Regions from separate parts of the Homo sapiens genome. Here regions 1, 2, 3 and 4 are each linked to region 5. Evidence: fine-mapped expression QTL. A gene starts in region 5. Each other region holds a variant in brackets. All regions are shown on one strand. Distances are from middle to middle. Region 1 overlaps TMOD1 (tropomodulin 1). Region 2 overlaps TMOD1 (tropomodulin 1). Region 3 overlaps TMOD1 (tropomodulin 1). Region 4 overlaps TMOD1 (tropomodulin 1). Region 5 holds the start of TMOD1 (tropomodulin 1).

Evidence for each region.
Region 1: its variant is fine-mapped to the expression of TMOD1 in blood mononuclear cells (TOPMed, PIP above 0.99). The same link has a PIP of 0.9 or more in NK cells, T cells, Th1/17 cells, follicular helper T cells, monocytes and whole blood.
Region 2: its variant is fine-mapped to the expression of TMOD1 in whole blood (TOPMed, PIP above 0.99).
Region 3: its variant is fine-mapped to the expression of TMOD1 in cerebellar hemisphere (GTEx, PIP 0.92).
Region 4: its variant is fine-mapped to the expression of TMOD1 in whole blood (TOPMed, PIP 0.96).

The regions. Positions count from the first base shown.
Region 1 is chr9:97,572,286-97,578,643 of GRCh38, forward strand. All of the region lies in intron 8 of TMOD1 (tropomodulin 1), which reads left to right. Among named protein-coding and RNA genes, the nearest start is that of TSTD2, 58 kb to the right of the region's middle. RefSeq lists a silencer at 526-765. The variant G/A (reference allele first, on the strand shown) is at 2,744.
Region 2 is chr9:97,521,376-97,527,733 of GRCh38, forward strand. It overlaps TMOD1 (tropomodulin 1), which reads left to right. Exons shown (of 10, transcript NM_003275.4): 2 at 2,766-2,933. The coding sequence starts at 2,814. Among named protein-coding and RNA genes, the nearest start is that of TMOD1-AS1, 8.1 kb to the left of the region's middle. The variant C/A (reference allele first, on the strand shown) is at 2,774.
Region 3 is chr9:97,530,859-97,537,216 of GRCh38, forward strand. The region is part of intron 2 of TMOD1 (tropomodulin 1); the gene reads left to right. Among named protein-coding and RNA genes, the nearest start is that of TMOD1-AS1, 18 kb to the left of the region's middle. RefSeq lists a silencer at 1-146. The variant C/T (reference allele first, on the strand shown) is at 3,079.
Region 4 is chr9:97,590,967-97,597,324 of GRCh38, forward strand. TMOD1 (tropomodulin 1) reads left to right here. Exons shown (of 10, transcript NM_003275.4): 9 at 325-469. Among named protein-coding and RNA genes, the nearest start is that of TSTD2, 39 kb to the right of the region's middle. The variant C/A (reference allele first, on the strand shown) is at 2,362.
Region 5 is chr9:97,498,444-97,504,801 of GRCh38, forward strand. TMOD1 (tropomodulin 1) reads left to right here and starts at 3,223. Exons shown (of 10, transcript NM_003275.4): 1 at 3,223-3,360. RefSeq lists a silencer at 3,040-3,759, an enhancer at 5,146-5,290 and a cis regulatory region at 5,209-5,226.

The DNA.
Region 1 (6,358 bases), 74 kb after region 5:
GAAAGGGGGTTAGGAGTCGGAGAGCTTTGAATGGGTAGGTTTAGGGAAAGTGGGCTGTGCTGTGCTCTGGGAAGATGGTTCTGGCTGGATGGGAGGGGACTGGGGGCAAGGAGAGGGTATCAGGGCCCAGGAGATCAGCCAGGAGCTATGGCCTCCAGGACCAGGGGGCTGTGGGGAGGCGCTCCTGCCTAACTGGAGTTGGGTCCGGCAGGGGAAGGGCTGAAGGCAGGTCTCAGGGAGGGGGCTCTGCTGACTCAGGCTCAGGAGGAGGCCACCTGTGCCTCCCCTTCAGGTGCCCCAGCCCCAGGCTGGGGGGAGGCAGGGCAGTGTGACACAGAGGAGGTGGCGAGTGGCATTTGATTTATTCCTTTATTCCTCATTCCTGGTTAGTCACCGAGGTCCTTGGAGACGGGAGCTTTTTCCTCAGTCCTGTGCTTATAACCTGTGGCAGCAAGTCTCTGTCCTTCTTTCTCCTTATACGGCCAGGGAAAGGGACTTGGGGAGTTCTGCCCAGGGTGACACGGAGCTGGCTCAGGACACAGTTTGGGAACCAGGACTTTGAAGCTGTTTGTTGACTCAAATAGTCTCTCTATCTCCAAGCAATGTTCTGTTGCCACCTGTGGTTGCGCCAAGACCATGGTGAATTGGGAAAGGGCAGAGCAGACCCCAGAGCCAGAAGGCACTGAGACAACATCTAGCCCAGTCCTCCTTTCACAAGCGGGGAAACTGAGGATGAGAGAAGGGATGGGACTAGCCTGAGGCCACAGGCCAGGTTAGTGGCAGAGCTCGGTTGGAGCTGCAGTATCCTGGCTGCACTGATGGATGGATGGGAGAAACCCTGTGGGCCCCGAGGGAGCCTGCAGGCCCGGCCCAGGCCAAGCAGGCCATCTCCACACACGGCTTCTGTGCTGCTCTCACCAAACTCTCCAAACTCCCCACAGAGCTGCTCTTCCCCAGGACCCCCAGGGCACCAGGGACCCTGCTCCCCAGGCCAGACAAGGCCTGGGGTGAGTCCCACAAATGAGAATATGTATAATGTCTGGGGTAGTGGCCAGATTCCCCACTTTTTATTCCAATATTTGACAATGAGGATGTGCTTAATATTTTGAAGAGAAGTTAAAGTAGATGGATTGTGCTGTCTTGTTTTCCCAGATTGGATGATTTGTGTCTGGCTTTTTTTACTCAACGTTGCGATTGTATCAGTTTTTTGTAGCTGTGTAACAAATTATCCCCAAATATAGCAACTTAAACAGCCTCAGAATCCTGGCATAAAACAATAAACATGTATTAACTCACCATTTCTGAGGGCCAGGAATCCAGGAGCAGTGTGGCTGGCTGACTTCGCCCAGAGTGCATGATCTGAGGTGGAGAAACTGCTTCCACCATGGCTCCCTCACAGCGTGGGCAGGAGACCTCAGCACCTTACCGTGTGCACCCGGCCTAGGGCTGTTGGAGTGTCCTCACAATATGGCAGCTAACTTCTCCCAGAGTGAGTGAGCCAAGTCAGAGAAAAAAGAAAGCCTCAGATGCCTTTTATGACCCAGCCTCGGAAGTTACACAAAGTCATTTCCACCATATTCTGTTTATTAAAAGTGAGTCACAAAGCACAACCCACACTCAAGGGGAGAGAAATCAGACACCACTTTTTGGAGGGGGGAGGATCAAAGAATTTTGCAGATATTAAGTCATCACAGTAAGAATTATCTATATTATTTTGTGTCACAGGAGTTGACCAGAAAGACCTCTGTAACTGAGAGGTGACAGCATGCTGGCAGCCCTCACAGCCCTCCCTCGCTCTCGGCGCCTCCTCAGCCTTGGCGCCCACTCTGGCCGCGCTTGTGGAGCCCTTCAGCCCGCCGCTGCACTGTGGGAGCCCCTTTCTGGGCTGGGCAAGGCCAGAGCCGGCTCCCTCAGCTTGCGGGGAGGTGTGGAGGGAGAGGCGCCGGCGGGAACCAGGGCTGTGCGCGGCGCTTGCGGGCCAGCGCGTGTTCCGGGTGGGCGTGCTCTCGGCGGGCCCCGCACTCGGAGCGGCCGGCCGACCCCGCCGGCTCCGGGCAGTGAGGGGCTTAGCACCTGGGCCAGCAGCTGCTGTGCTCGACTTCTCGCCGGGCCTTAGCTGCCTCCCCACGGGGCAGGGCTCGGGACCTGCAGCCCGCCATGCCTGAGCTTCCCCCACGCCGTGGTCTCCTGAGCGGCCCGAACCTCCCCGACAAGCGCCGCCCCCTGCTCCACGGCGCCCAGTCCCATCAACCACCCAAGGGCTGAGGAGTGCGGGCGCAGGGCGCGGGACTGGCAGGCAGCTCCACCTGCGGCCCCGGTGCAGGATCCACTGGGTGAAGCCAGCTGGGCTCCTGAGTCTGGTGGGGACTTGGAGAATCTTTATGTCTGGCTAAGGGATGGCAAATCCACCAATCAGCACTCTGTATCTAGCTCAAGGTTTGTAAACACACCAATCAGCACCCTGTGTCTAGCTCAGGGTTTGCAAATGCACCAATTGACACCTGTATCTAGCTACTCTGGTGGGGACATGGAGAACTTTTGTGTCCACACTCTGTATCTAGCTAATCTAGTGGGGAGGTGGAGAACTTTTGTGTCTAGCTCAGGGATTGTAAACGCACCAGTCAGCACCCTGTCAAAACAGACCAACCAGCTCTCTATAAAATGGACCAGTCGGCTCTCTGTAAAATGGACCAATCAGCAGGATATGGGTGGGGCCAGATAAGAGAATAAAAGCAGGCTGCCG[G/A]ATAACGCAGTGGCAACCCGCTCGGGTCCACTTCCGCACTGTGGAAACTTTGTTCTTTCTCTGTTTGCCATAAATCTTGCCACTGCTCACTCTTTGGGTCCACACTGCCTTTATGAGTTGTAACACTCACCGCGAAGGTCTGCAGCTTCACTCCTGAAGCCATCGAGACCACGAACCCACTGGGAGGAACAAACAACTCCAGAGGCTCCGCCTTAAGAGCTGTAACACTCACCGCGAAGGCCTGCAGCTTCACTCCTGATCCAGGAGACCACAAACCCACCGGAAGGAAGAAACTCCTAACACATCCGAACATCAGAAGGAACAAACTCCGGACACACCGCCTTTAAGAACTATAACACTCACCTCGAGGGTCCGCGGCTTCATTCTTGCAGTCAGTGAGACCAAGAACCCACCAATTCCGGACACATAACTAGCAAAGCTACCTCAGGATGGAGCAGGTATCTCAAAGGGGGAGGAGTTCCCATCCTGGGGGTGTGTAAACAGCTGGGAGATGGAGGGAATTTTAATGTCAGTTAGGGTCTGGGACTCTGGAGTTGGATAACCTAATTCCCAGGCCTCCTTTCTGTTGTGTTTTGAAGTATTCCCAGTTGTCCATATCATCTGGGAATGGCCAGAATTGGCTCCGTCAAATGTCCAAAGTGAGATTCTTGATGTTCCTGTTGCGTCTGGCCAGAAAGGGAGCCTCAGAGCCACCGGCTCCAGGATACACCTTGTAACACCTAAGGTGTTGGTTGGTAATTTTGTTCAAGAGCAAATCTGATCTCTTTCTCATCTGATGGGTAATGCTCTGACATGGTAAAGGTGTGAGGACACACAGCTGTCACACACTGCTGAAGGGCATGCCGACTTTTACATCCTTTTGTCAGAGCAGTCTCAATTTTAATTTGAAAGCGCCTATCTTTCAACCTAGCAGTTTTGATTTCCGTAGGAAGCCTGAGGAATACCCCCTCCCTCCCCTGCCACTGCCACGTTGTTCGTAACACGAAAAAACAGAAGTAACCTAAATATCCATCTACACCAGGGCGTCCCGTGAAGCCAATAGAAGGAATAAGGTCATTCTCTACATACTGACTCTGAAAGAGCTCTGCAAAATATTAAATGAAAAAGGTGGGCTAGGCATGACAGCTCATGCCTGTAATCCCAGCACTTTGGGAGGCCAAGGAGGGAGCTCACTAGAGACCAGGAGTTCAAGACCAGCCTGGTCAACATAGCAAGACCCCATCTCTGTAAAAAAAAGTAAAGGAAATTAGCCAGACATGGTGGCACGTGCCTGTAGTCCTAGCTACTTGGGAGGCTGAGCAGGAGGATCACTTGAGCCCAGGAGTCAGAAGCTGTAGTGAGCTATGATTGCACTGCTTTGTGCTGCTGCACTCTAGCCTGGGCAACAGAGTGAGACACAGTCTCCAAAAAAATAAATAAATAAATATTAAAATAAAATGAAAAAGGCAAGTTGCAGAACAGTAAGTATAGTATGAATTCATTTAAACAAGAAACAAGTACCACAAAACAAAACAAATCCCTGTACATTTCTGTCATATACTTCATGCATAGAAACACAACTCATTGGCCATGATGGTTACTTTTTTTTTTTTTTCTTTTTTTGAGACGGAGTCTTGCTCTGTTGCCCAGGCTGGAGTGCAGTGGCACGATCTCGGCTCACTGCAAGCTCCGCCTCCCAGGTTCACGCCATTCTCCTACCTCAGCCTCCCGAGTAGCTGGGACTACAGGTGCCCGCCACCACGTCCAGCTAATTTTTTTTTTTGTATTTTTTAGTAGAGACCGGGTTTCACCATGTTAGCCAGGATGGTCTCGATCTCCTGACCTTGTGATCCGCCCACCTCGGCCTCCCAAATTGCTGGGATTACAGGCGTGAGCCATCGCGCCTGGCCCATGGTGGTTACTTCTACGGAAGGGGGTGGGACTGGGAATAAATCGGGTGAGGGAGACTCTTTCCTTTTACTCAATCTGTGTTAATATCATATGAATTGTTAATAATGTGGTTATATTTATTCACAAGTGGTTTTTTACTTCTCAAGCAAATCTGAAGGAGTATGAGAGTTCTTTCCCAACCATCCTGTCCCTGGCTCTGCTGCCCAGAGACTGTTGCCAGTCCGGGCATGACCAACCCCTTGGTCTCTCCCCCTTTACACACTTTCAGGCACAGGCAGCTCACTACCTTACCAGGCAGTTCCTCAGCGTGTGGACACTTCTAATGGTCAGAGGCATTCCTCCATGCTGAGCCAAACACCATCTGCGTGTAGTTCCTCTCGTCAGTCCTACTTCTGCCTTCTGGTCATTCTCAGAGGCACTTAAGTGAGGTGGAAACCAGCACAGACTCTAGAGCTCGCTGCCTGTATTCAAATCCTGGTCCTGCAACTGACCCATGCTAGGATTTGGGAAAAATTTCTTAATACTTCTGTGCTTCAATTTTTTTTGCCTATAAAATGAAAATAATGAGGATGGGCATAGTGGCTCATGCCTGTAACCCAGCACTTTGGGAGGCTGAGGTGGGTGGATCACTTGAGGTCAGGAGTTCAAGACCAGCCTGGCCAACATGGTAAAACCCCATCTCTACTAAAAATACAAAAATTAGCTGGGCGTGGTGGTGCTACTCAGGAGGCTGAGGCAGGAGCATCGCTTGAACCCAGAAGGCAGAGGTTGCAGCAAGCCAAGATCGTGCTATGCACTCCAGTCTGGGCGACAGAACAAGACTCCATCTCAAAAAATAACATAAAATAAAATAAAATGAAAATAACGATAGTAGTTTTCCTTAGATTGACAGGAAAAATTCCTTAGATTGATAGGAAAAAATGAATTAGCTTTTGTAAAATGTTTATGACATTGTTTAGCATGCAGTAATCACTAAATAAGTTACTTGAAAAATAAGTCAGAGAACTGGTTTTTAGTCGTGGCTCCCCAGCCACTGGTTCTCTCTTCTATAAAATGAATGAGTCCTTTTAGTCTCAGGGTCCCCGGAGTCAGAGAAAGATGCAGGTATGAAGCTTCTTTGACATCTCTTTTTTTGGAGACAGAGTCTCACTCTGTCACCAGGCTGGAGTACAGTGGCATGATCTCAGCTCACTGCAAACTCCGCCTCCCTGGTTCAAGCAATTCTCCTGCCTCAGCTTCCCAAGTAACTGGGACTACAGGTGCGCTCCACCATGCCCAGATAATTTTTGTATTTTTAGTAGAGATGGGGTTTACCATGTTGGCCAGGATGGTCTCGATCTCCTGACCTCGTGATCCGCCCGCCTCGGCCTCCCAAAGTGCTGGGATTACAGGCGTGAGCCACCGTGCCCGGCCGAAGCTTCTTTGACATCTTAAGGCTTACTGTAAGGTGTATGCACGTGTTCTATTTTACTCCTTAATGTAAAAAGAATGGGTTTGCTCTGAGATGAACACTCCTGGAAGATCATGATTATCTAATGGAATCCTGTACCTTGTCGCACATGCCCAGACACATCTGTGTGTATCTAGGGTACTGGACACTAATGTGAGAACTGGGCCTAGAGGAACCTGGGGCAGTCCTTTCAGCCCCAGGTCAAGGTCAAGCCTTGGCTCTGTCATGAATAAGCCGAGGGAGCATGGTCCAAC
Region 2 (6,358 bases), 23 kb after region 5:
TGTTTGCAGCCTCTCTAAGAGATGCTAGTTTTAAGGCAGTTCTGGACATCTCTGTGAGTTGGTTCTGGAAGACTCCAAGCCCTTCACTGGAGTCCCTCTTGGCCCCAGCACAGAGATCATGGATCCTCTCCCCATCCTGGCTTCACTTAGGAAAAGCCAAATTAGGCTGTTTTCTGAGGGCCTTCAGGAAGGTTTTTTCGTCGATACCAGAGCACTGTCAGCTGTGCTTTCTTTGGAAGTAATAGAAATGGATCAAGTGATGGGGGGCCATTTATGGTCTGAGCATTGCATTCTTGGGGCCTGGTCAAAGAGGACGTTAGGCCAAGCTGAGCCATTCTGAGAGAAAAGGATGGCACTGAGGTTTCTGTATTTGGGAAGCAAGTCCTTCTTATCAAGCCAGCTGTCATATACTTGGATTTCTCCTGCAAATAGGCCGACACATGCACAGGCTTACACTGATAAAATGTGCTCTCTGCTTTCTGAGACAGAGACTTTTTCTGTTAGCTTAGTGAACTTTGGTTTTCATTTGTTTTAGATGCCTTTAATTATTTTTCATTAACAACTATTCCCAGGTTTTGGATCGATTGGTTGACTGTCCTTTCCTAGTTTTCATTTTTCTCTACTTTAGAAAATTCCATCATCATTTCACAGATGAGCCACGGGTGGGTTGGTTGGTTGGCTTGCATGGAGGTCTAAATACGTACGTTGCTGTGAAGAAGGTCATATCTGTTACATAAGTTTGCCTGGGCTGCTGGAACACAGTTCCACACACAGCGTGGCTTAAATAACAGAAACGTACTGTCACACAGTGTTGGAGGCTAGAAGTCTGAGATCAAGGTGTCGGCAGTGTGGGTTCCTTCTGGGGCTGCCTTCTGGTGGCTTGCTCTCAATCTTTGGCATTCCTTGGCTTGTAGTAGCATCACCCCAATCTCTGCCTTCATTGTCACATGATATTCTCTTAGTGTGCTATATCTGTGTCCAAATTTCCCGTTTATAAGGATCCCAGGTAAAATATATTGGATTAGGGGCCCACTCTATCCAGTAAGACCTTGACTAAACTTAACTACTTATATCTGCAATGACCGTATTTCCAGGTAAGGTCACATTCTAACTTGCAATGTGTTGCTAGGTTACTGAGATACTGGGGGTTAGAACTTCAACATATGAACTTTTATTTGTATTTTATTTATTTATTTACTTTTTTGAGACTGGATCTCACTCCGTCACCCAGGCTGGAATGCAGTGGCGGGAACATGGCTCACTGCAGCCTCGACCTCCTGGGCTAAAGCGATCCTCCCACCTCAGCCTTCTGAGTAGCTGGGACTATAGGTGCTGCACGACCACACCCAGCTAATTTTTGTATTTTTTGTAGAGGCAGGATCTCACTGTGTTGCCCAGGCTGGTCTCAAACTCCTGGGCTCAAGCAATCCTCTCACCTCAGCCTCCCAAAGTGCTAAGATTACAAGCATGAGCCACTGCACCCAGCCTTATATATGAGTTTTTAGGAGACACATATAACTCATCACACTGATTCTATGCACAGTACTACATTTAGCCAAGCTGGAGGACAATAGCGCTCGAGGTCCTGCTGTCCCTCCTAGCTCAGCGGAGGCAGTGTGGTGGAGTAGAGAGCACCCTCGGACTGATGTCAGGGGTCCTGAGTCAAGCCCTAGGCCATCCCTTAGTTTTTTCACTAATAAAAATGTTTTAATTAAAAGACCTATTAGTATCCAAGAAGATCTTCAAGGTATAAAAAAGGGGAAAAAAAAGTGTGTGTGGAGAGGCTCAGATGAGTTAACAGGTCTGAAAATGTCATGGTTATGGGAAGTAGCAGAGACAGGGTCCAAACACACAGGGTCCAAATGCGTTGGGTGTCATCTGTGAAATGGGAAATGAACAGTAGGCTTCTCCAGCAAGAGAGAGCAGTCTGGGAAGCAGCAGAGGTGAACCCTGGTCCCCAGGGTCCTGCTGGCAAACCAATTCTTCCCTCTGAACCGGCTCCCTCTGGGGGGAAATGGGGGCTCTGGACTAGGCAGTCCCCTGGCCACGCCATTGGGTGACTCCGCAGAGAAGGTCTGCAGCCAGCAGACCTGAGTTTAAATGTGGATCTGCTGCTTCCTAGTAGTGTCGTTTGGGTAAGTCACTTAATCTCTCTAAGTCCTTCTCTATAAAATGGGGATAATGGTAATACCTACCTCACAGGTTAAATGAGAAAGTCCTTGTGAAGTACTGAACACACAGCTTGATATGCAGTAGTAAAAGTTAGCTATTTCTATGAACTACTTTTTGTAAGGATTGAATGAGATGGTGTAGGTGAGGGGCCTGTATGCAGTAGGTGCTTAATTAACCACCGATACTCCCCTGCCCCTTTTAAACTCAGTTTTGGCAGAGTTTCCAGCATTCATGATTCCCTCTGGGGTGTAGGGTGAAGGGTGGAGAGTTACACAGAAAAGTATTTGAACTCCTTAAAGAATAACATTGTTTTCAGGCACTCATAAGCCATTTACAATTGCCCATTTACTTGTAATTAATGTCCATGCCAATTCTAACCAATTACAATTCATTAACTTACATGCTCTCAGGACTTTACCTTGCACAGTTTTATTAGAGAATTAGCCAAACTTAGTGTAGTATTCCACCATAGTAATGATTATCCTGGCAATTCATAAAATGTACCCAGGCCGCTGTGTGAACGATGAGCCTCCATTTGCTCTGAGAGAGCAAATCTGAGACGGGTCTTTCTAAGGTTCTTGTCTTTCTGGTAGGTATTACT[C/A]AGCACAGAAATTCAGGAGACACAGACAAGTTCTTCCACGATGTCGTACAGACGAGAACTAGAGAAATACCGTGACCTGGATGAAGATGAAATCCTTGGAGCCCTAACAGAGGAAGAGCTGAGGACCCTGGAAAATGAGCTGGATGAGCTGGACCCTGATGTGAGTAGGTGCTAAAGGGAAGCACATTGTCACTAGCGAGGGGACCTGGGGAGGGACAGGTGGATGCTTCCTAAAGCCACCACTTCCTTTTTCCTTCCATGGCAATGACATTGGTATAACTTTGCCTTTGCAGATTTTTCTTTTAATGTGTTGTATTAGGGTTCTCCAGAGAAAGAGAGAACCAATAGGGTGTGTGTGTGTGTGTGTGTGTGTATGTGTGTGTGTGTGTCGAGACAGAGAGAGAAGGGGAGAGAGAGATTTGTTATAAGGCTTTAGCTTGCAAGGCTATAGAGACCAGCAAGATCTGCAGTTGCTAAGGTGGAGACCCAGGAGAGCCAATGGCACAGTTCCAATACAAATACAAATAACCAGCAGGCCGAAGACCCAGGAAGAGTTGGGTCTGGGAAAAGATGTTTTAGTTTGAATCCGAAGGCAGAAAAAAGCCAATGTCCCAGCTCAAGGCAGTCAGGCAGGAGGAAATTTCCGCTTACTTGGAGGAGGGTCAGCTTTTTTTCCCTACTCAGGTCTTCAACTGATTGGATGCCCACCCCCCACCGCCATATCAGGGGGAATAATCTGTGTTACTCAGTCTACTGATTCAAATATTGGTCTCATCCAGAAACACCCTCACAGACACACCCAGAAAAATGTTTGACCAAATGTCTGAGCATCCCATGGCCAAGTCAAGTTGACACCCAAAATTAACCATCACAGTCTACCCCTTGTCAACTTGGCACACATATACATCTCTTTAAACCATACTTAATTTCCAAATAAAGACAGTAACGATGTCATAATTCTGCCTAACATGATACAACTATCCTGGGTACAATGGAAAACACACTATCACCTTCCCCAGAAGAGGAGGTAAAGTCCATGAGTGATGTTTATTCTTCTCCTTGCTGTCCTGTAACTTAAATATTATAATGTAAAATTAATGATACTTAAATCCTATTATACAAAGCCAATACACCAATAACAGTAAAGTCGGTATCAAACAATCTTGTGTTACATGATAAGGGAATAAGAGAGGGAAAAAGCAAAGATATTTGCTACACACACACACACAATACAAGTGTTCATAAAATAAGGAGGAAGTACTCATGACAATTACAGTCTTCATTTCTGTAACTACTCAGATAGTTGTAGCTGGTATTTATAACTACCCTGTTTCATTCCCCATTCTTTGCCTTTAGCAAGCACCTCAGCTGGTTGTGGTTCTTTACCCGATGGGGTGACCTAAGCTTTCATTTCTGAAAGGCCTAGGCCATTAGTAGTCCTGCCTGGATTAGTTTGTTGTAGTTTTCCATTGACCCTAATCACAGGGCATGGTAATACTAAAAAACGCCCTAAGGGCTCTCCTGTATCCAGACATACTTTCTTACCTCCCTTGTGCAATAGCTATCCAATTTCTCCTTGGTAGTCAGCATCTGTCACCCCAGCCAGCCCAGTAACTCCCTTCTTTGCTCATTGATTCAGAGTCATGAGGAGCCCAAAGTGGCCTGGTGGCAGTTTTAACTTCCATTTTAATGGAATTGTTGTGTCTCCTAGTGGAACTTTGGTCCTTTGAAACTAAGACTTCTAGGCCAGCAGACCACAGGGTCATGGGAACAATGAACAAAAGTTTTGCTAGTGCATCACTAGGAGAAATGGTGAGTGGTGCCACTCCTATTTCCAATCTTGATTCCCTGACCCATGAATCCTAGCTATGGGAGAAATGGCATCCGCAATTGCCCACTGATTCAGAGCATATACAGCCTTCTGGAGAATGTTGCCCCGGCCTGTAAGGTGTGGCCACCTAGCTGGCACTGTAACTGAGTCTTCAAAAGGCCGTTACCCCGTTATATCGAGCCAGCAGCTTCAGGATGGTGGAGAACATGTGTCATGGAATGAATGAGCTGAGAAATAAAGGACCAGAATAATTCTTCTCATTTAATGTTTGATGTTTTATCATTGCATTTCATAGTTGGCACATTTAGAAGTGTGTTTAATACTCAGAATTCATCCCTGCAGTCAGGGTACACAGTGTCAAGAGTCAAAAGTCTCTTTGGTTGTGTATGTGGTTTAGCAAGTCACACTAGAACTGTGAGCATGGGCATAGAGGGGTTCGTAGGTGGCCTCCTAGACAAGGGTCTTCATCCTACAGCTATATCCCAGGCACCCAGGTCAATAACCAGCACAGAGAAGGTAGATAATCAAAGTTACTGAACTGAGTAAATGTTCCATGTTATATATTTTTAATTAAAAATGGAATGTATCACACCCTTTTTTTAAACCAGCCATTGCTCAACTCTGGTTTAATAGTGATCCATAAAGAAAACAACACTTCAATCTCACTCACCCAGAGATGGTCACTGCTAACATCCCGGGAGCACAGTTTGATGAAAAAATGCAGGACTAGAAGTTAGGTGTTTCGCTTCCAATCCCAACCCTGTCTCTTCCACTCCATGTGACCTTGGACCAAGCTGCCATCCTTCCTAGACCTCAATGTCCCCAGCCATGGAATAGCAGAGTTGGTTGGTCATTTTCAGGGTTAAGCTAACCTGACTTATAATCTGGTCTTATACCCAGGTGTGATTAAGTGGCTTCATTCCAGATAACTCAGAATCCTTGCCTAGGGCTCTTGGGTCCCAGGCCCCATAGAATTACACATCTCTCCAACAGTGTGTCCTCCTCTTCCTGATATTCACGATCTTCCCCTGCCTGCCAGGAGAAGATGGTTTCCTGATGAGGCTGCTCAAGTTGATCAAAAGTCGGCATTGGTGGAAAGAGCCTTGCATTTCTCTTTCTTCCCCCGCATCATCTCTCCCCATTAGCCTGTGTTTCAGTAAAAACAAGCCATGTAGGCAAGAAAAAAATCAAGCTGCAAAATTATTCTGTTCTAATTCTATCCTAGATCACTGTCACACAGAATTCCAAGAACAAACAACTTTATAAAGGGAGAACAAAAGAGGCATGTAGCCACTTCCAGTTAACTCAATAAATGTGACTCGGTTACCTGCCGAGCACTGTGCTGGGCACCAACAGGGCAGCCTGGCTGGGACTCTGCCTTTCAGGAGCACAGGCTGGTGGGGACACAGGCATAATACACTGAGCTTGACACAGAGCAGACAGGAAGCTGTGCCAGGAGATTAACTCTTACTGGTGCAAGGCATCACAGAGCAGGTGATACTGGAACTGAGCTCTGGATTTTTTTAATTCCATGCCGAGTGAGGGCCTTTGAGAAAGGCCGCAAGGAGAGTGTTGTGTAGGGAAGGAATTGGGGATGGGAATCTTAGTGTGGTTTCTGTGGAGGGTCAGATGCGACTAGAAAGAGGGGTTGGGATAGATAACGCGGGGGAAGAGGGGGCGGCAAGGCCGACTGACGGGTTTAGACTTTGCTCAGTGGGTTCAGGGAGCCCTTGAGGGTCAGAGACTCAGAGGGG
Region 3 (6,358 bases), 32 kb after region 5:
CTCATTGTGACTTCCGCCTCCTAGGTTCAAGTGATTCTCCTGCCTCAGCCTCCCAAGTAGCTGGACTTACAGGCGCACATCACCATGCCCGGCTAATTTTTGTATTTTTAGTAGAGATGGGGTTTCACCATGTTGGCCAGGCTGGTCTCGAACTCCTGACCTTAGGTGATCCACACCCACCCCCCCCACCACCCCTTGGCCTCCCAAAGTGCTGGGATTACAGATGTGATCCACTGCACCTGGCCTCTGCTAAGGTGTTCTTACATGCCAGGTGCTATGCTAAGCATTTTATGGGCATCATTTCATAAAATATTTACAAGGATCTTACAAGATTGATCCTCATAGGATGAGGTTTAATGTCATTCTGTAGATAAAGAAATAGGTTCCCAGAATCACACAGCTATTAAGTGATAGAATTCAGACAGACCCTGCTTTCCTTAGACCATAATGTGTCAAGAGTTCTGAGAACAGGCTGGGTGTGGTGGCTCATGCCTATAATCTCAGCAGTTTTTGGGGCCAAGGCAGGCGGATCACTTGAGGTCAGGAGTTCAAAACCAGCCTGGCCAACATAGAGAAACCCTATCTCTACTTAAAATACAAAAATTAGCTAGGCGTGGTGGTGCGCAACTGTAATCCCAGCTACTTGGGAGGCTGAGGCAGGAGAATTGTTCGGACCTGGGAGGCGGAGGTTGCAGTGAGCCAAGATCATGCCACTGCACTCCAGCCTGGGTGACAGAGCAAGACTCCATCTCAAAAACAGAGTTCTGAGAACAAAGGGCCATGAATTGCAGGACGAAATATGGAAAACAGAATTGGAGAATCCCAGAGCTCCAAGGACACTTAGAAATCATCTAACAGTACCCCACCCCAGGCATCTACATACGCGGTACCGGTAGAGAAAGCCTGATTTTGGAGTCTGTCCTGGACACACTTGGTGTTTTATGTATTTCATCAAATCCTCATACCCATCCTGTGAGGTGTCATTATTACCATTTCACTGATGAGACATCCAAGCATCAACAAAACCCTGAAGTGGAAAGAGGGGTAAGGACTCATTCAAGGTCACACAGCAAGTCAGCGGCCGAGCCAAGGCGCCCACCTGGTACTTCCTGTCACTCCACATGGCTTCCCATCAGACGATCATAAAATCCTCCCTACTTGTGCCCCAAATCATATCCTTTAAGGCAAAGACACTCTTGCCATCCAGGAAGCAGCCAAGTTTGGTCCACAGGGCCGTGATTCTCCTTTGTAACACAAACCGGCAGAATCGCAAGCCCAGGACAGAAGTAAACAGTTGAAATGGAAAGAAATAAATCTCTCCTCTAAAAATAGGCACACATCCTTAGAAACACTGCTGGCTGTGCACAGAGCCGAGGATGGGCCTGGTGGGGTGAGGGCAAGTCAGGCCAGGCATCTGTGTGTCCCCACCCTACCCTCTGCCCTCTGGACCCATGACCACCTCTCCCAACCCCTCCTCTGGCTGGGGAACCTCCTCGACCTGGAACCCCTCACTTCCTCACATTTTTCAAGGCTTGACCTTTCCTCCCCTCCCTCGGGAAGCCTTTTAGACTCTTTCACCTTCACACCCCTAGCACAGCACCTGCTCCACCCTGGCAACACTGAGCTGTTTCCTATTTGATTTTGACATGTTGAATAGGAAACATTTTAAACACATAGGAGAGTACAGTATATACCTATTTTCTCATCATCTGAATTTAGCAAATGTTAAAATTTTGCCTTATTTGGTTCTGATCATTCTTAAAAAAAAAAAAGAAATCACTACAGATAAAATTTAAACCCTGCCTTTCTGTCTCCCTTTCTATTCATCATCTCTGCCACTCTACTGAGCGCTTTCTATTGGGAGGCAGCAAACCAAGTATCCACAACATCATGTAAGTGACCTACATGAAGGAAGGAAGATGGGTCAATTTTCTTGAGCCATGTGGTCATCTTGGCTTATCTATTACTTTCTCACTTTATAAAGGTATGTGTATGTAAGAAAATGTTCACTTACCATTTACATTTTCAGAACTAAAAGCAACAGCAAAACCAGTGCTATGTAGTAACTGACCGTGGCCTCTGTGTCAGAGAAAACAGGGAGTGGTGGGGACTGAGGCAAATGGGAGTTTGTCTAAAGCGCCCAGCATTTTCAGCTCCACTAATTGTTGCCGGTATGAGAGTGCAGACCTGGTATTGCCACGTCACCTAATGTTTCCAGAGATGTTGGAAATCTGGATTTTTAAAAAATGTATAAGCTCCTTATTTTAAAATGCTGACAGCTTATTTAAATGCACAGACCAAACAAACCCAACCAAGTGTTAGCTTTTAATTGGCCTGTAGGCCTCTCAGTTTGCAGCTCTGGTTCTACCTCCTATGGCAGGTGTTTGTTTTAGCATAAAAAATAGACACATACACAAACATATACATGTGTGATTAGATGAAAAGCACCTAGCCCAGTGCCTGGCACGTGGTGGTCCTTAATAAATGTGAGCCTGAGTATATGATTTGTCCACTAGAATCTAAGTTTTTTGAGACTGGGAACCATACTGTATGGCCACAGATACAGTGCAGCCAGGTATAGTTGTGCAAGTTGGACACTTTCTCCAGGAGACACTGTTCACATAGACTAGAGAGTGAATAATGTCCTTGGCTTAGTGCAGTGCACAACCTGCACAACCAGATGTGACTGCCCTGACAGACCACCTCCATAATGCAGTGTCTGTTCAGTTGAATGAAAGTGAATGATCATACCCAGTGATGGTAAAACTGAATAGCAAGAAACTGCTTCCATATGGAGTTTAAACCTTTATTCTGAGGTTTCAAGATAAAAGGGCTCTGGACCCTCATTTTACAGATGGGGGATCCAAAACCAGAGAGCACCAGTGCCCCGTCTGTGGCCTCACAGCCCTGGGCTGAGAACCCAGGTTATCAGGTAGGGTGCAGCTTCGCTACAAGTAACAGAGACTCAGAATAATGTGATTTGTGCAGTGTTTTATCCATCCCTCAAGTAAAAGTCCACAGGTAGGCAATCTAGGGCTGGGATGGAGCTCAGCTCCCCAGACTTCTCAGAGTCCTAGA[C/T]TTTGTCCAGCTCATCTTTCTGCCATTCCTAAGGTGTAGCCCTATAGCCATAATAGCCACATTCCAGGCATCCAAATAGAGAAAAAGGGATGGGGAGGGGGAGGGATAAAAGAAAGGAGAAAAGCCATGATTCAAGTCCCTTTTAAGGAAAGTTACCAGAAATTGCCACTGGACATTTCTCATATCATTGCCTGGAACTTAATTATATGACTCAACCTAGCTGCAAGGGAGCCTGTGAAGTGTAGCCTTTAATCTGAGCAGCCAAGAGCTCAACTAAAAAGTGGAGGCTTTCTTTTATTGCTAAAGAAGGGGAAGCTTGAATCGGGGACGATTTGGAGTCTGTCACTGTGGGTTCACTAGTGTGATGGCCTGATGTTCTACTCTGCTGAAAGCCCTGAGATGGATTGAGAGGAGTTGGCAGGACTTTAACCAAATCCAGGCCCTCAAAGTAAACATTATAAAGGTCTCACTCTCTAGCTTGGCATTTCCCAAAACCCACGACAGTGAACCTTGGTCTCATCCTAGACACTCCCCAACTCTGACATCTTTCATAATATGTCCCTCTCCCCAAAACCCAATTGGGGACAGCAGCTGGGTGGAAAAGCCAATGGCTTGGGACAGCAGGTGCAACATGGGCCTGAAGGGAGTCCAAGTCATACCATCCTGTTCCCAGCTGGAGCATCAGTGTTGTGTGACTGGACAACTCAGACCACATTCTCTTAGCACTCATGGCTTGGTGCTGGGGATTCAGAGAAAATTAAGATATATCCCAGCTGGCCCTTGAAGGGCACCCAGTATCCTTAGGGAGAGAGATACAGCATAGATATGCTCCACAGAGTAAGATGAGCATTATTCAAGAACTGGCAAGATGCCTAGGGGAGTTTGGAGCAAGATTCACCAGGTCAGTTTGGAGAATCCTGCAAAGGCTGAACAGGGTGCCCAAGGGAAGGGCTTTGAAAGATGAATGCAGGGGAGCTGGAGTGACAGAATTCCAGGTGGAAGGCACAGCCTTGAGCAAAGGCATGGCAGTGGGAGAGTGCAGGGCGTGGCTGTGGAATATGGAGCAGCCTGGAGTGGCTAGAACATGGGCTACTTGATGAAGGGAAGAGGCTCAGGAGGCTGGAGAGGTGGGAGTAGGTTGGAGTCAAATCATGAAAAGCTCTTCATGCCTGGCTGATGAATTGGTCAAGAATTCGTAGGTCAGGGAAGTTGGTGAGCATCTCCGAGTATGCTGGGGAGTGATGTGGTCAGGTACACATGTCAGTGGAGTCTAAGGAGCAGAGGTAGAGAGGCCTGAAGCAGGAAACCAGCCAGGAGGCTTCTCTGCTGGTCCCGGCAAGACTCACAAGGGCTGGAACGAGGGTGATGCCCACAGAAGGAGACATTTCGGAACACTGCAGCCTCAGACCCTAATGCCTCCCCTAGCAGGCCATGCCGCCCTCATCTGCTGGGCCTCTGCTGCACTGTGCTTTCTCTCTCCCTGCGATGCCCCTGCACTCCCTCTCTTCACCTGGCTGGCTCTTCCCTGGTCCCTCAGACTCAGTTCAGGACCACCTCCTCCAGGAAGCCCAGGGCTGAGTAAGGTGACCACACCACTGAGATGTGTATCTCCCCTGTGGCTGTGAGCCCCTCTGGGCTGGGATCGTACCGTCATTGTCTCAGGATACCCAGTCCCCAGCACAACAGGAACATGGAACATTTTCCCTGCACATGAGGCAGGAAAGGAGGATTTGGAGAAAGCCAGGGAGGGAAGGTTTGTCCCCACCTTGAATACCAGAGAGAGACTGTGCTGCTATGACAAATAGGTACCACCACAAGCAATTATTGGGTTTCAGCTACAGGAGTGCCTTTGGACGTCGGCATTAATGCCCTGTAAAGTTGACTGGGGAAATGGCAGCTATTGAGTTTCACCAGCCCTGCATCAAGGTCAGGGCAGCTGAGCCAAAGGCCTAGCTCTTTGTGGAGAGAAAGCAAAGAGAGGGAGGAAGAGTCCCAGAGTGTGTATGTTAGGGCAGAGGCTGTGTCTGGAGGGGGTGGGGCTCTTAGAGGTTTGGATCCTGCTGGTCCCTTTGTAACATCAAGACGCTGTGACTGAGGCAAGAGTTGGCTCACCCCGCTGCCCCTGCCACACTCTCAGGCTAAAGTATGTGAGAAGAGCGCTCCACTGCATCATTTCCAGTGGGATCTGGAAGCTGCTGGACAGTAATGCAAAGGCAGAACTCTGTATATTGGGATGGGACCATAAGTGCCTAAGTTTTTCATAAGGAGAAACCGACCTGGCAGATAACTGGAAAATAAAATCCTCAAGGCCAGTTAAAAACTTTTGTTTTCCAGTCAAATCCCTTGTAAAAGGCAACTAGGGGAGTTGCTGGCCTGTGATAGGTTTGGCCTGGCCTGGCCTGGCCTGATGTGGAGGCAGGTGGGCGTCTAGGGCACACTTAGGTTAAATTGTTTGAAATGGGAGGAGGGAAGAGGAGTCAGCTGGAAGTTCGAAAAGTGAGGCCACTTTGGTTTCACTCCTACCCCAGGACAATTACTCAATGCCCCTGGACCTCGGTTTCTCCATGTGTAAACTGAGACTCATTTGATAAGCAGGGGAGTCTCCACTCCCCTGCTTTCTAACACTTGTGGAGGAGACCTGGCTCTCACGTGCGGCCACATCTGGTTTCCAGGATTTGTTCCCAGAGGACGGCAGTCAGGTGGGATGGAAAATTTTCTGTGGGATGGAAGTCAAGAGTCCTGGGCTCTCGGTCCAGCGTATGACTTCAAGTGAGGCCCCTCCCTTCCCCGGCCCTTGGCTTCTTCCAATCCCTGATAAAGAGGTTTTACCACCTGTCCTGTCCTCTTCCAAGAAGCTGTGTGTAATTCAGTCACAGAATAGGAACCTGGGACCGCCAGAGCCCAGACCCAGGGGTCACGTTTTGCATTCCCTTGTTCTTAGATATAGCTGATGTATTTGGGAAAAGTGATAAAAATTCCTTGTTTTTTTGTCACTGTGAGGAACCAGGTTAAGGGGTTTTGCATGGTTTTATGCATGGTGAGCCACCAGTCTGAAGATAGTTATATAGATCCTTGACCATGCTAATATATATACATGCTAATTATATACAGTGTCATTTTTATGTAAGCTCAGGCTTCCCAGCTATGAGGCTAACAAGCTATGTGACTTTGGGCCAGTGACTTCAGTTTTCTATGCCTCAGTTTCCCCAATGGAAAATGAAAAAAATCATTGGTCTAGAGGATCTTTTAGGGCTTTATATTTCCGAGCTGCCAGGAGTCT
Region 4 (6,358 bases), 93 kb after region 5:
GGACTAGATGATTGAATGTCCTCCTTCAAATACTCTTCTGTCGTGGAGCTCTTACTTGGGCACCTGCTCAGAGAGAGGCTGTTGTAAAGCAGTGAAAAGATCTGTTCTTGGCATCCAGCAGACCTGAATTTGAATCCCAGCTCATTTGCTCCTGGCCGTGTGACCTTTCAACTTCTCTAAACTTCCATTTCCCTACTCTTGGAGAGGAGGCTAAAATCCCCTCCCACTACTCAAGAGTTTCTGCAGGTAGAGGTGGTTTAGGCACTGTACACATGGAATGAGTGGTGATTTTATTTTTTATTTTTTATTTTTTCTTGACTAAAGAGCCAGCCCCTGGGCAACAAAGTGGAAATGGAGATTGTGAGCATGTTGGAAAAAAACGCAACACTTCTCAAATTCGGCTACCACTTTACCCAGCAAGGACCCCGGCTTCGGGCATCCAACGCAATGATGAACAACAATGACCTTGGTGAGTAGAAATATGCTTCCTGCCCTGCCCGCAGTCCTGTTATTCCCTCCACCTGTGCTGGGGATGTCAGGGAAAATTCTGTAGATGCCTCTCCGAGTCTTCTTGAGCCTTGATTTTCACATTGATCGCGTCTTCCTTGTTTTCTGTGTTTGTACCTCATCTCCACCCTGGACTACGAGCTCCTTGACTTCAGGAGCTAAGGCTGAGTCCTCTCCTCCTCAAAGCACAGCTCAGCACAGGCTGGGCCCAGAGCACACTTAAGTGTGTTTGCAGAAGGAACTGAAATTTGGGAGGGCACAAGTCTCGCCGGGAGTATTTTCCTCTTCTGAATACCCTTTTCTGAACTCATAGCGTCCTCTCCAGGTCACACAGTCTAGATTTAGCCCCAAATCCCAAAACTACCTTCCAATAGGACTACCAAAATCTGAGCCTAGGAGACTTCACATTGATTTTAAGGTAAAAGTTGAAAATGTCAACTTCATAGTAAAGTAAAAGTAGGGTATATTAATGTAATCTCAATTAAAGGCATAGTTTGTTTTTTTCTAAAAGGAAAAATTATTATGAAGGAGACATTATCAGGAAATTTTAAAAAATAAAAAAATTAAGAAAATGAAAATATCACAATATTTTTTGATAATGAACACTTATATACCTATATGAACAAATAGGTATATAAGTCAACTGAATGAAGTTTGAGCAATCATGATCTTACTTGCAGATGCCGGTTGTTCACAAGCTCTGTGTAGTTATTGCTTATGTATATTCCTGCTGGCTGCCAAAAAAGAATTTGATATAGCATTCAACAAAGGGAGCATGACTGACAAGGCTATAGGAAAACAAGAGGGGGAAAAAAAACAAGAAAAGCAGTAGGTCTATATCATTAACATGAATGATGATTATATTGAGCCCTGAGTTTCCTAGAACCAAGACAGCAGGAAGCCAAGCCAAGTTACATTATTCTTATCACAGAAGGGAAGGAAGCATAATGAGTTTGAAAAAAAAAAAAGAAAAGCCTCTTTCTGGGACTACATTGTGAAATGAACTTGTGTTTTAAAGGACAGCATCTTCAGTGAGTTTCTCATCAGATTCAAACCTGCTCTACACAATGGTTTCCAACCCTCGATAAAATGCAAAGAGCCTAATATGAATGCTCCACTCAAAGTATGTCACTTCCTGGTGATTTATCTGAGGCCAGGTCACTACCTGGAAGCCCTCGAAGAACAGAGATGAGTGTGTAGGAGTGAATGCTCAAGGCAGGTGTGCACAGACCCCACATGCACAGATAACCACAGGATTACACACACACACACACTTTAGATCGAGTTATTAAATTCCACAAACATATACCAAAATTCTATAGGTTCCTGCTTGTAAGGATGTCACAGCCCAGGAGCTATTCATTCATTGCTCACTGCAAATGCCACTATTTTCTAGAGCCTCGGGTTTAGAAAAGCCCATTTTTTAAAATGTGTGCAGAGTCTTGGTTTATCAGAAGTATCCTTACTTGAAATAAAATAAGAACAAACACAAATAAGAATCATAATTATTACATCATCTCACAGATGTCATAGCTAAACTGAATGGTTGGAGAAGGCCAGCAGCTGTGATCTGGCTGCAGTACCAGCACGGAGAAGCCTTGCGTTTCTATTCTATATGCAATAATCTCATATTTGTTTCCCCCTCAGTTAAGTTTCTTCTGTGCCCCTTGGCTCCTATCTCTGGGCTAACCCAGTTTTTGTCCTCCAATGGCATGATGGTATGGAGGTCTTGTTTCTGGGGATAGAGGCTCTAGATGAGCAGAGGTCACAGGTGCTGCAGGGGGATACCAGCATCATCTAGGAGTTGGACAAAATGGCCTTTGAAAACTCTCCCAGTCCTGTGAATCTGAGAGT[C/A]CAAAATTCAGGCCTGACTCCCATCACCAAGAACTTTCAGAGGCCATTGTAAGAATGTAGGATGGTAGAACCAGAAGGACTTAGAGCTTATCCCTCCAGTTCCCTTAGAAAGAAACTGGAGCCTGGGGTGGGGGTAGGGGGTCTAGGCAGCAGCTCAGTCAGGTCACACCAGCTGTTAGTGACAGCAAGCATTTTCTGGGCAACTTTTGTGTGCCTAGGACTGTGCTAGGTGATATCAGAGGTAGCAGAAAGGCTACCTCTGACTGAAGAAGCTTTATAACCTTTTAGGGGAAAAAAAAGACTCAAAGGCATGCCTAAAAATTCAAGAATGCCTACAAATTCTATCTAAACAAAGTGAGGAAATGATTTATTGAGACAGAGGCCAGTTAGGCAAAGCATGCTGGTTGGGGATGGGGCTTTAGCCAGCCTTGAAAGGAAGAGATAGGTTGATGGAGGAGGTCTAGAGGCATCCCTCTGGGGGTTCTAGGAGTATTAGGAAGTAGTGCTGGGGGTACAAAGGAGAGACAGAAGGATCTAAAAGGATTGGAGGAACTGTTAAAAGGAGTTAGACCTAGGAGGAAAAATGAGTTCACAAAGTAGGAAGGGAAGGGCATTCCAAGCAGAGGGAACAGCATGAGCAAAGGCAGGACAGTTGAAAGTATATGGGATGTTCACAAGGAATGGGGCTGGGTAGGTGTTTGGGTGGCTGCAGCCCAAGGCCTTTAATGTCAAGCTCAGGGGCCTGGCGATGGAAGCAGGTGGGAAGCAGAGACCGTGGCAGTTTCCTGGACGGTGATGCCAGGTGATAAAATTGGGCCTCTGGGTTACCCCAGGGAACTGTGGGCAGCTGCTCCCTTGGGGTTTCCTACAGAAGGAATTAGAGATGAATCATCTCAGTGATTACAGGGAACAGAGTGCTACTTGGTGATGTAGGATCTCTAGCTTTAAAATGAAATTTGCGCCCATCTGCTAATTTTTGTAAGAGAAATGTTTGTTATGGCAGTGCCTCAGCTTCCTCCTGACTTTACAACAGATTATTTGCATCCTACATTAATGCCGCAGTGAAGCAGACAGACTTCATGTTTTCCAACTGAATATTTGTATCGTAAAAGCCTCCTGCCAGCTCCTCCTCGGGACTGAGGCTGTTAGCAGGCCTGGCAGCAGGGAGCGCAGATTGGGAAGGGAGCAGGCCTCTCAGGCCTCCTGCTCATTCTCACCTGCCTCTGCTGGCTCTTTGCCCATGGCTGGGGCCTCTGCAGTACTTGGGCTCCTCCTTGGGGGACATTGAGTCCCCAAGGCTATGAGGACAGCGACTGGCTCTGCAGACAGGCGGTATGCCCAGGATGCATCCTGACCAGTGCGTCTTCGGTCCTCCCCACCCTGGGCACCAAGCTCTAAACAGAGCGTTCTGTGAGTGCAGGGTGCCAGGGAGGAGCCGAGCTGTGGATCCCATCTGCGTTTTCCCACAGCAATACCTCAGATGACTGTCATCTCCACACTATTTATAGCAAAGAGCCAGGCCAAGCATGGCACTTCAGGTCCTCTAAATCTGCCACTGCAGCTCTCTCCACTTAGCAAAATCTGAATTGCAGCCTGTGAGTTAAGACAGTTGTGTGGGTTGGGGTATCGTGTGGAGGGAGAGTAACATGTTTAAAAGCAGAAAACATCCCTTCCTGGGAGTCACCATTTTACAGTATTCTCAGGGAAGACCTTTGCAGCAAGCAGCCCAGACATAGCACACTGCAAAGCAATTTCTAAAAAAAATGTATTTTATTGTCAATTGACAATTTGTAATTGTATATATTTATGTGATACAAAGTGCTGTTATGATTTATGAATACAATGTGGAAAAATTAAATTAAGTGAATTAGCATATCATCACCTCAAATACTTTTTGTGGTGAGAACGTTTATTTTTTAGCAATTTTGAAATGTATAATACACTATTATTAGCTATATTCACCATGCTGTGTAACAGAGCTTTATAAAACACCTTATTCCTCTTGTCCAACTGAGATTTTTGTATCCTGTGGCCATTATCTCCCCATTCCCCACCCACAGCTTCTGTAATGACAGTTTTACTCCCTGCTTCTATGAGGTCAATTGTTTTAGATTCCACATATAATTTGTCTTTTTGTGGCTGGCTTATTTCACTTAGTATAATGTTCTCCAATTCCACTCATGTGGTTGCAAATGAACAAATTTCCTTTTTTTTTTTTTTTTTTTTAAAGAAAAGGCTGAATCGTACTCCATTGTGCATATATCCCCCAGTTTCTTTATCCATTCTTGTTGATAGACACTTAGGTTGATTCCTTATTTTGGGTATTGTGAATGATGCTGCAATGAACATGGAGTGAAACATCTTTTCAACTGATTTTAATATTTTGGGTAAATATCCAGAAGTGGGACTGCTGGATCCCAAATCAGTTTCATCATAGTCCCCCAAACCTATCTCAGAAAAGGCAGCCAGGTACGGTGGCTCACACCTGTAATCCCAGCACTTTGGGAGGCCGAGGCAGGCGGATCACCTGAGGTCAGGAGTTTGAGACCAGCCTGGCCAACATGGTGAAACCCTGTCTCTACTAAAAATACAAAAAATTAGCCGGGCATGGTGGCAGGCACCTGTAATCCCAGCTCCTTGGGAGGCTGAGGCAGGAGGATCGCTTGAACCCGGGAGGCAGAAATTGCAGTGAGCCAAGACCACACCATTGCACTTCAGTGTGGGCAACAAGAAAACTCCATCAAAAAAAAAAGAAGAAGAAAAAAAGAAAAGGCTACTCCTTTCCTCACAGCCACCCAAGCCAGAAATCTGGGCCTGTTCCTAGATGCTGCCTCCACCCCAGCCAGCCAGTCACCTCCTTGCCAATCCCAGTGTCCTGCCGTGTATGTTGAGCCCTCGTCACAGTTATCTCCTCCAACATCCTCAGGCCCCCAGCTCCTCCAGGGCAGGCACCCCTGGCACTCATCCCAAGTCTCCTTCCGAAGCTTGCCTTGTCACCCCTCCACTTAGAACCCTCACTTGCCTCCCATTGCTCTCAGTCAGGCCCCTTGAAATGACTCCCAAGTCTCTTAATAATAGCTGACTCTTACATGGCACTTACTGTGTGTTAGAGACTGTTCTGAATACTTCCCATCTCACTAGCTCATGTAGTCCTCCCCACAACCAGGTGAGACAGGTGCTATTGTTATCCACACTTTACAAGAAGGAAACAGAAGTCTAGGGAAGTAGGTAATTAACATTACCCACAATCCGTGGGCAGGACCGGGATTTGAATTGGCAATGTGGCTCCAGTGCCTGGGTGCTCCACATTGGGAGATGGTCCCATCAGGAGGTCGTCTCTTGACATCTCCAACAAGCCATCCCTTTGCCATGTTACTACCATTCCAGGTAGCCTGAGTGCCCCCAAGTGACCAAGGAAAAGCTTACCCTTAGAGGGTCTTTACTCCCAATGCCCCCCACCTTCCCATCCTCTACCTTTTTGTTGTTTAAAATTCAGCTGACCTGTTAGTTGCCACCTGGGAAGGTCTGACCACTTCATTCTTTATGCCTCTCATACCTCAGAGAGCTGCCAGGGCATCTCTAATACTTCATATTTCTCAAACAGTAGTTCTCAAACATTGTATATCTTGGTTCCTGTTATACTGTGTCTTTACTTCTGATTCTTGTGCTTGGCACACAGCACTCAGTACATGCTGCCGAATATTTAAATGAATAGAAAGTGCTTTCCAAAAACATGATGGAAATGTTCAAATTTGGCAAGAAGTGGCAGAGGAGTTCAAGCAGCAGATGGAGGTTGGTCCGGACGACTGGAGAGCCCTTCTGGCATTCACAATAAAAGGAGTCTCTGGCTCTTGCAATAAGCAGTGAAGAGTTTTTTAAAGAAAGTAAAGACCAGACAGAATTGAAGGAGGATATTGGGAGACCCAGCTTTTACTCCCAGTTTTGTGACTTATTCGTAACTTGGAATAAGTTACTTCCCTCTCCTGGTCTCAACTTC
Region 5 (6,358 bases):
GACGATGGGTGGCCAGGCAGAGATGCTCCTCACTTCCCAGACGGGGTGGCGGCCGGGCAGAGGCTGCAATCTCGGCACTTTGGGAGGCCAAGGCAGGCGGCTGGGAGGTGGAGGTTATAGCGAGCCGAGATCACGCCACTGCACTCCAGCCTGGGCAACATTGAGCACTGAGTGAGCGAGACTCCGTCTGCAATCCCGGCACCTCGGGAGGCCGAGGCTAGCAGATCACTCGTGGTTAGGAGCTGGAGACCAGCCCGGCCAACATGGCGAAACCCCATCTCCACCAAAAAAATACGAAAACCAGTCAGGCGTGGCGGCGTGCGCCTGCAATCCCAGGCACTCGGCAGGCTGAAGCAGGAGAATCAGGCAGGGAGGTTGCAGTGAGCCGAGATGGCGGCACTACAGTCCAGCCTCCGCTGGGCATCAGAGGGAGACCGTGGAGAGAGAGGGAGAGGGAGAGGGAGACTGTGGGGAGAGGGAGAGGGGGAGGGGGAGGGGGAGGAGTCCATTACTTTTTAAAATAAAGCAATAGATTGTTTCTTGATGTAACCACAAAATTAGTGCTAAGTCAGTGTGACACAAACAAATGAAATGTGAATGAACCCTTCCTCATACCATATTCAAAAGTCAATTCCAGATGGATTGAAAACCTAAACATTGGCCGGGCATGGTGGCTCATGCCTGTAATCCCAGCACTTTGAGGTGGGCGGATCACTTAAGGCCAGGAGTTTGAGACCAGCCTGGGCAACGTGGCAAAACCCTGTCTTTACCAAAAAATTAGCTGGATGTGGTGGTGCACAACTGTAGTTCTAGCTATTCAGGAGGCTGAGGTGGGAGGATCACCTGAGCCTGGGAGGCAGAGGTTGTAGTGAGCCGAGATCGCGCCACTGCACTCCAGCCTGGATGACAGAGACCCTGTCTCAAAAAAAAAAAACAAACAAACAAAAAAAAAAAACAAAAAACTAAACATGAGGCTGGGCACAGTGGCTCGCGCCTGTAATACCAGCACTTTGGGAGGCTGAGGCGGGAGGATTGCTTGAGCATAGGAGTTTCAGACCAGCCTGGGCAATATAGCAAGTCCCCTATCTCTACAAAAAACATTTTTTTAAATAGCTGGGCATGGTGGCTCATGCCTGTAATCCCAGCACTTTGAGGGGCTGATGTGGGGGTTAAGGGGTTGGCTTGAGCCCAGGAGGTTGAGGCTGCAATGAGCCGTGATCACACCACTTTACTCCAGCCTGGCCAACAAAGCGCAAGACTCTATCTCAAAAACAAAAACAAAAACAAACAAACAAAAAACCTAAACATGAAAGGCTAAGGTGGGAAGATAACATAGGAAGATAACTTTATAACCCAGGAACAGGAAAGAGTTCTTAAACAGGACACAGAGTGCTGCCAATAAGGGAAAAGATTGCCAGACTGTATTTAAGAACACCTGTTTATCAAAATACGTTAATAAGGTGAAAAGGCAAAAGAGTGGAATATAACTGAGGATACACACACCATTGAATCTATTCAATACACAGGACTATCCAGAAGAAAAATGGACAATAAATCTGAACAATTCACAAAACAAATCCAACTGGCCAATAAATATGAAGTGATACTCAACACATTAGGATATAGGGAAATGCAAGTTTGAACCTCAATGAGATACCATTACTCACATATCAGAATTTCTAAAGTGTTTCAATTTTTGTAACTTCAAGTGTTGTTGAAGATGGGAAACTGCACTGTACAATGGTACTATAACTTTGGAAGAGTTCAGGCTTATCTCTGCCGAAGTTGAGGTTAGGCTTTCTCTATCACCCAGCACTTCCAACAGCAGGCTGTGCGCGTGGACAGGAGGATTCTGGCAAGGAATGTTCGCAGCAGCACTATTTGTAATAGCTAAAACCTGGAAACAACCTAAATGCCCATTAATAGTCAAATGGATTTTTTTTTAAACTGTGGCATATTCATACAGTGAAAAACTACAGCTGCATAAAACCACAGATTAACAACAGATTTGAACAAATGAAGACATACTACAGAGGGAAGAAAAAAAACAAGGACATGATCACCGTAAGGGTCAAGAAAGTGATCATCTTTAGAAGGGAGTTGGGACCCAGGAGGGACAGGTTGGCTTCTGGGCTGTAGGCAATGTTCTCTGAGTGACTGGTTGCACAGGTGTTCACGTTGTAAAAAGTCATGAAGCTGCACATTTATTTTGTTTACACATACAACATAACTTATGTTGTATGTTCTTATATGTTCGATTCACAACAAAAATGTTTTAAAATAATCTGAAATATTAGATCACTGCTTATTTTTAAATGTATGGCATATACCCCTTGAAAAGAGCGTTCTCATTGTGAGGACTTTAGAGAAATTCATTTTCTTGAGAAACAAAATTTGGTTAATGAGTGTTTCTCATTAATAATCTATACATCAGGATTAAGAGCTGATTTTATTAAGGTCTACCCTACCAAAAGCTTTCCCATAATAATCCAAAATAAGACGTTTTCCTATTTCTATATAAATTCCTTTGCATGAGACATTTGTTTATTAAAACACTTAAAATTGTATTTGGAATAAACCACCTAAAGTGGTTTGTTCTGAAAAAAAAAAAAAAAAAAAAAAGCCTTTTAAGAACTTGGGTCTTTTTGTTGTGGTCATTTAAAATCAGTATTTTAGACACTCCACTCGCTCTCAGTGTAGAGAGAATGTATTCGATTGCGTGTTGGAACTACGTGTAGACAAAACGATCGCGGTTAAAGCTTGCGGCTCAGAGCCCACCTGGCCGCGCTGCTGGGAAACGGACGGAGCGGCGCTTCAATCAGAGGTGAAGGTGCAGCAGCTGCTTAGCTGGCTTTGGTCCATCACTTCTGGGGACTTCAGATTCTCAAAATCTTAAATTCTAAACCCCACAGGAATGCAAATCTGCCCACCTTTTCCCACATAACTCTACCGTCGCTCAAACTCTTCCTGGTACCAGCGGGGAAGCGGAGGAGACCCAGGCAGGGGCCCGCGCTCGCTCGGCTGCAGCCCGACTCCCCTGCGCTCCCGGCCCAGGGCCGCGTCCCGACGGGGAAGTGCGCTGCGCCCGGGCGCCCCCGAGTGGAGGGGGGGGGAAGGAGGGAGCCGGCGGCGGGCGGGGCGGGGCGCGGTGACAGCCGAGCCGGGCCCGCCCCTGGCTCCCACCCCCGAGCCCACAGCTCCCGCCCGCCCGCGGCCGCCCGGGAGCTCGTCCAGCCCCGCGCTGCGCTCGCCCGCCCGCTGCCCGCCGGAGCACCGCGGCCTCCGCCCGCGTCCATCTGCCCGCCGCCCGCGCCTGTTCCGCAGCCCGCGTCCGCGCCGGCCCCACAGCTCTGCGTCCGGGTAAGCCCCCACCCCGCCTGGGGTCCCCCTCGCGCTCGCGGGGCTCCCTGCCCCCGCTCCGGGGCCTCAGCCATATCTGGGCAAAATATTCAGCTGTCGCCGCCGCCGCCAAGAGGGACTGAGCGTGGCTCCCTCTATAAATAGCTGCCGCCTCGGGTTGCCTCTGGGGCTAGGGAGCCCGGGTCTCGGGGTTCCGAGCCCAGCGCTCCCGTCCCCGCCTCCCCGCGCGCGCAGCCCTGGCCAGGGCGCCCTCCGCTCTGGACCTCCGCACCGCGTCTGTGAACGCGAGAAGGACCCGGGGTTCTGGAGGAGACGGCGCCCCGGGCTGGGGTCCTGGCGGAGGGGCGCCCCCGCCACCCGCAGGACTCCAGCGCGGCGGGGCTCTGAGCCCGCGGGGTGCTCAGCTGGGTACAGGTGCCAGCCGGAGCTGGGCTCGGGGGCGCGGCCTCTTCTCCGCCTGCAAGAGTCTGGGGGTGGGAGTGGGGGAGTAAAGGCTCGACTGGACGTGGATCCCAGGTTCGCGCTGAGAGTGTTTGGGGCAGGTGAAGTTTCCCAAACTGGGAGAGACAAGGTTTAAAGCACCACGACACGCGCTACGCGGCCAAGTGGAGCTGGAAAGAGCTTGGAGGCGGGAGCCCCAGGTTGTCGCCGGCTCTCGGCATGGCCTTGGCAATCCCCCTCTTGTTTCTGGATCTCAGTCTCCCATTTGTAGGGGCGAGGTTTGGTAGCCGCGATGGAGCTGGGAGCCCAAGCCCTGAGAGCTGCAGGGCGCGCTCTTGGCCGCCTGCGCTCCCCACACCTGTTCACCCTCTCCGGGCCTGGGACGCTGGGGTCCCAGCCGCGCACATGCGGAGACGCTGCAGAAATCGGAGACTGACTGCCCCAGACTCGATCGTATCCTGGGACTCACTAAGGCCGTCGGATATCCTAAGCCGTACAACCCTAGGAAGTGCACTTTTGGGGTGCCTATGGGCATCTCTCTGCTCCGTAGCCGGCAAAGCAGCCTGTGAGCCACGCAGCTTCAGATGCGATGAGCTGGGCAGGGGCAGTGGTTCCAGTACAGCCGCTCCCTGGCCACAGTTTCCCGGTCTATATCGGGCCTATGATGCGTCCTCCAACCTGCGCAGCGCCGCCCCCTCCTACACCCTTCACCCACCGCTACTATTACAGACCCTGTCTCCAGCCCTCGCCCTATGCCCTCAGACTCTCGGAGACGACCTGGCCCAAGCTCCTCCGTGTCTGAATCGCAGAACCAGACCCTGAACCCAGGTGCTGGGCCCTCAGCGTGAGAACCCCTAGGGCCCCCACCCCATCTTTCTTCCAGAGGTGACTGCCATTTTGTCCTCTGTGCAGGGCCGCAGAGCCCCCTGCTCAAGGTCACACAGGGCCGGTCACGCCAGAAGTTCTGCAGTCTCCCAGCCTTTCCCATCTCTTTCCGCACCCTTCCCACTGCTCAGGCAGGTCCGGGAGCTCTGGGAGCACCCGATCAATGCCCCCTCTTCTTGAATCTGCTGCTGTTCTGGACTTTACCTTGTCTGGACAATAGCGCCCTCATCCTGAAGTTTCCTTTTTGCTTCTACTTTACTTTCTGTTATGTGTTTTTTTCTAAAGCCATCTCAAAGACTTACAGAAAAAAGAATTAACGGGAAATGGAGTCAGATAATAAAGTTTCCATCAGTTAGAGCCACACAACCAACAGGCAGAGTGAAAACAAGAATACTGTCACTTTGGTGTATTATCTTTAATGAGCTAGTCTTACAAACCCGTGTTTTAGAGAGTCATTGACCCTTGAGTTTCTCCCAGCCTAAGATGAAAGCCAGTGTCCTCTAAAAATAGCCTCCGCCCCACCTTATCAGGGTCTCACACCTTCTCCCTCCTTCAGGGTAGGGCGTTTTCTTGCAGCTCAGCAAAAACAGAAAACACAAAGTAGGTGTGGCAGCTCTGAGCAATGGGAGGTGGACTGGCCTGGAGGTTAGGATATCTGGCTCCAGCCCCAACTCTGCCACCCACTCAGAGGAACCTTGAGCAATGAGGGGGCAGACAAGGTGGTCTCTAGTGGACCTGGAGTGGAGAGGGCTTAGAGTCTTCCTTGGAAGCCTTTCTAGCATGACCCATCCTGTAAGGAGGAGCTGGGGAAGGAGTGAGAGACAGTGGCTTTCCCAGGTGCCAAGGGAGGACAGAGGTGGGCAGTGTCACTTGCTGTGGAGAGACAGGAGTAGGGGGATGAGGACTGGGAAAAGACCATCAGGATTGGCAGGGATCATGAGTGACTTAGACCAGGGTATTGCAGCAGGCTCAAAAAATGAGATCTGCCAGTGACCCAGCCTGTCTGAGCCTCGTTTTCTCCTCATACAATGGAGACAACAATAGCCCCATTTCATAGGGGCTGCTTGTGAGAATTAAGTGAGATGATTCAGGGCAAGCCCTCAGCCCAGAGCCTGATATTGCAATGATAGTATTCGTTGTGGTGAGGGGGAAAGGCAGGAGCTAACAGGAGCTGAAGAAGTTCTCCACTTCTTCAGGCTGTAGGCTGAAGAAGGCTCTCAACAGAGCCAGCAACTCTTTCTAAAAGCTTGGATGAGAAAGGAAGGGAGAGGGAAGGTAGCAGGAACTGAGGACAAGGAACAGAAGGGAGGCAGGCATTCTAGGATAAAGAGTATGGCAAGTAGTGAGAAGAACCCAGGAGAGGGGAGAGAGTTAAAGGGGAATCTAAAAGGTGTGCCCATAATGAGGATTGGGGACCTTCCTTAGTGACTTGCAGAATGTCACAGACTCTGCAGGTGGCCTTCATCCCCTGGAATGAGCAAAAAAAGGTAAAACGAAGCAGATCCTGGCTCAGACCCCTATGTCTCTGGCAGACCAGTATCTGCGATGGAGGATGGTGATGGGCTGTGAAGAGTGTTTTGACCCTGCTCTGGGGCCTCATAACCTTGGCTTATTTATTTCTGAAATGACATCATCTATCGATGACTCCTGCTGAGCCCGGTCGTAATGGCCT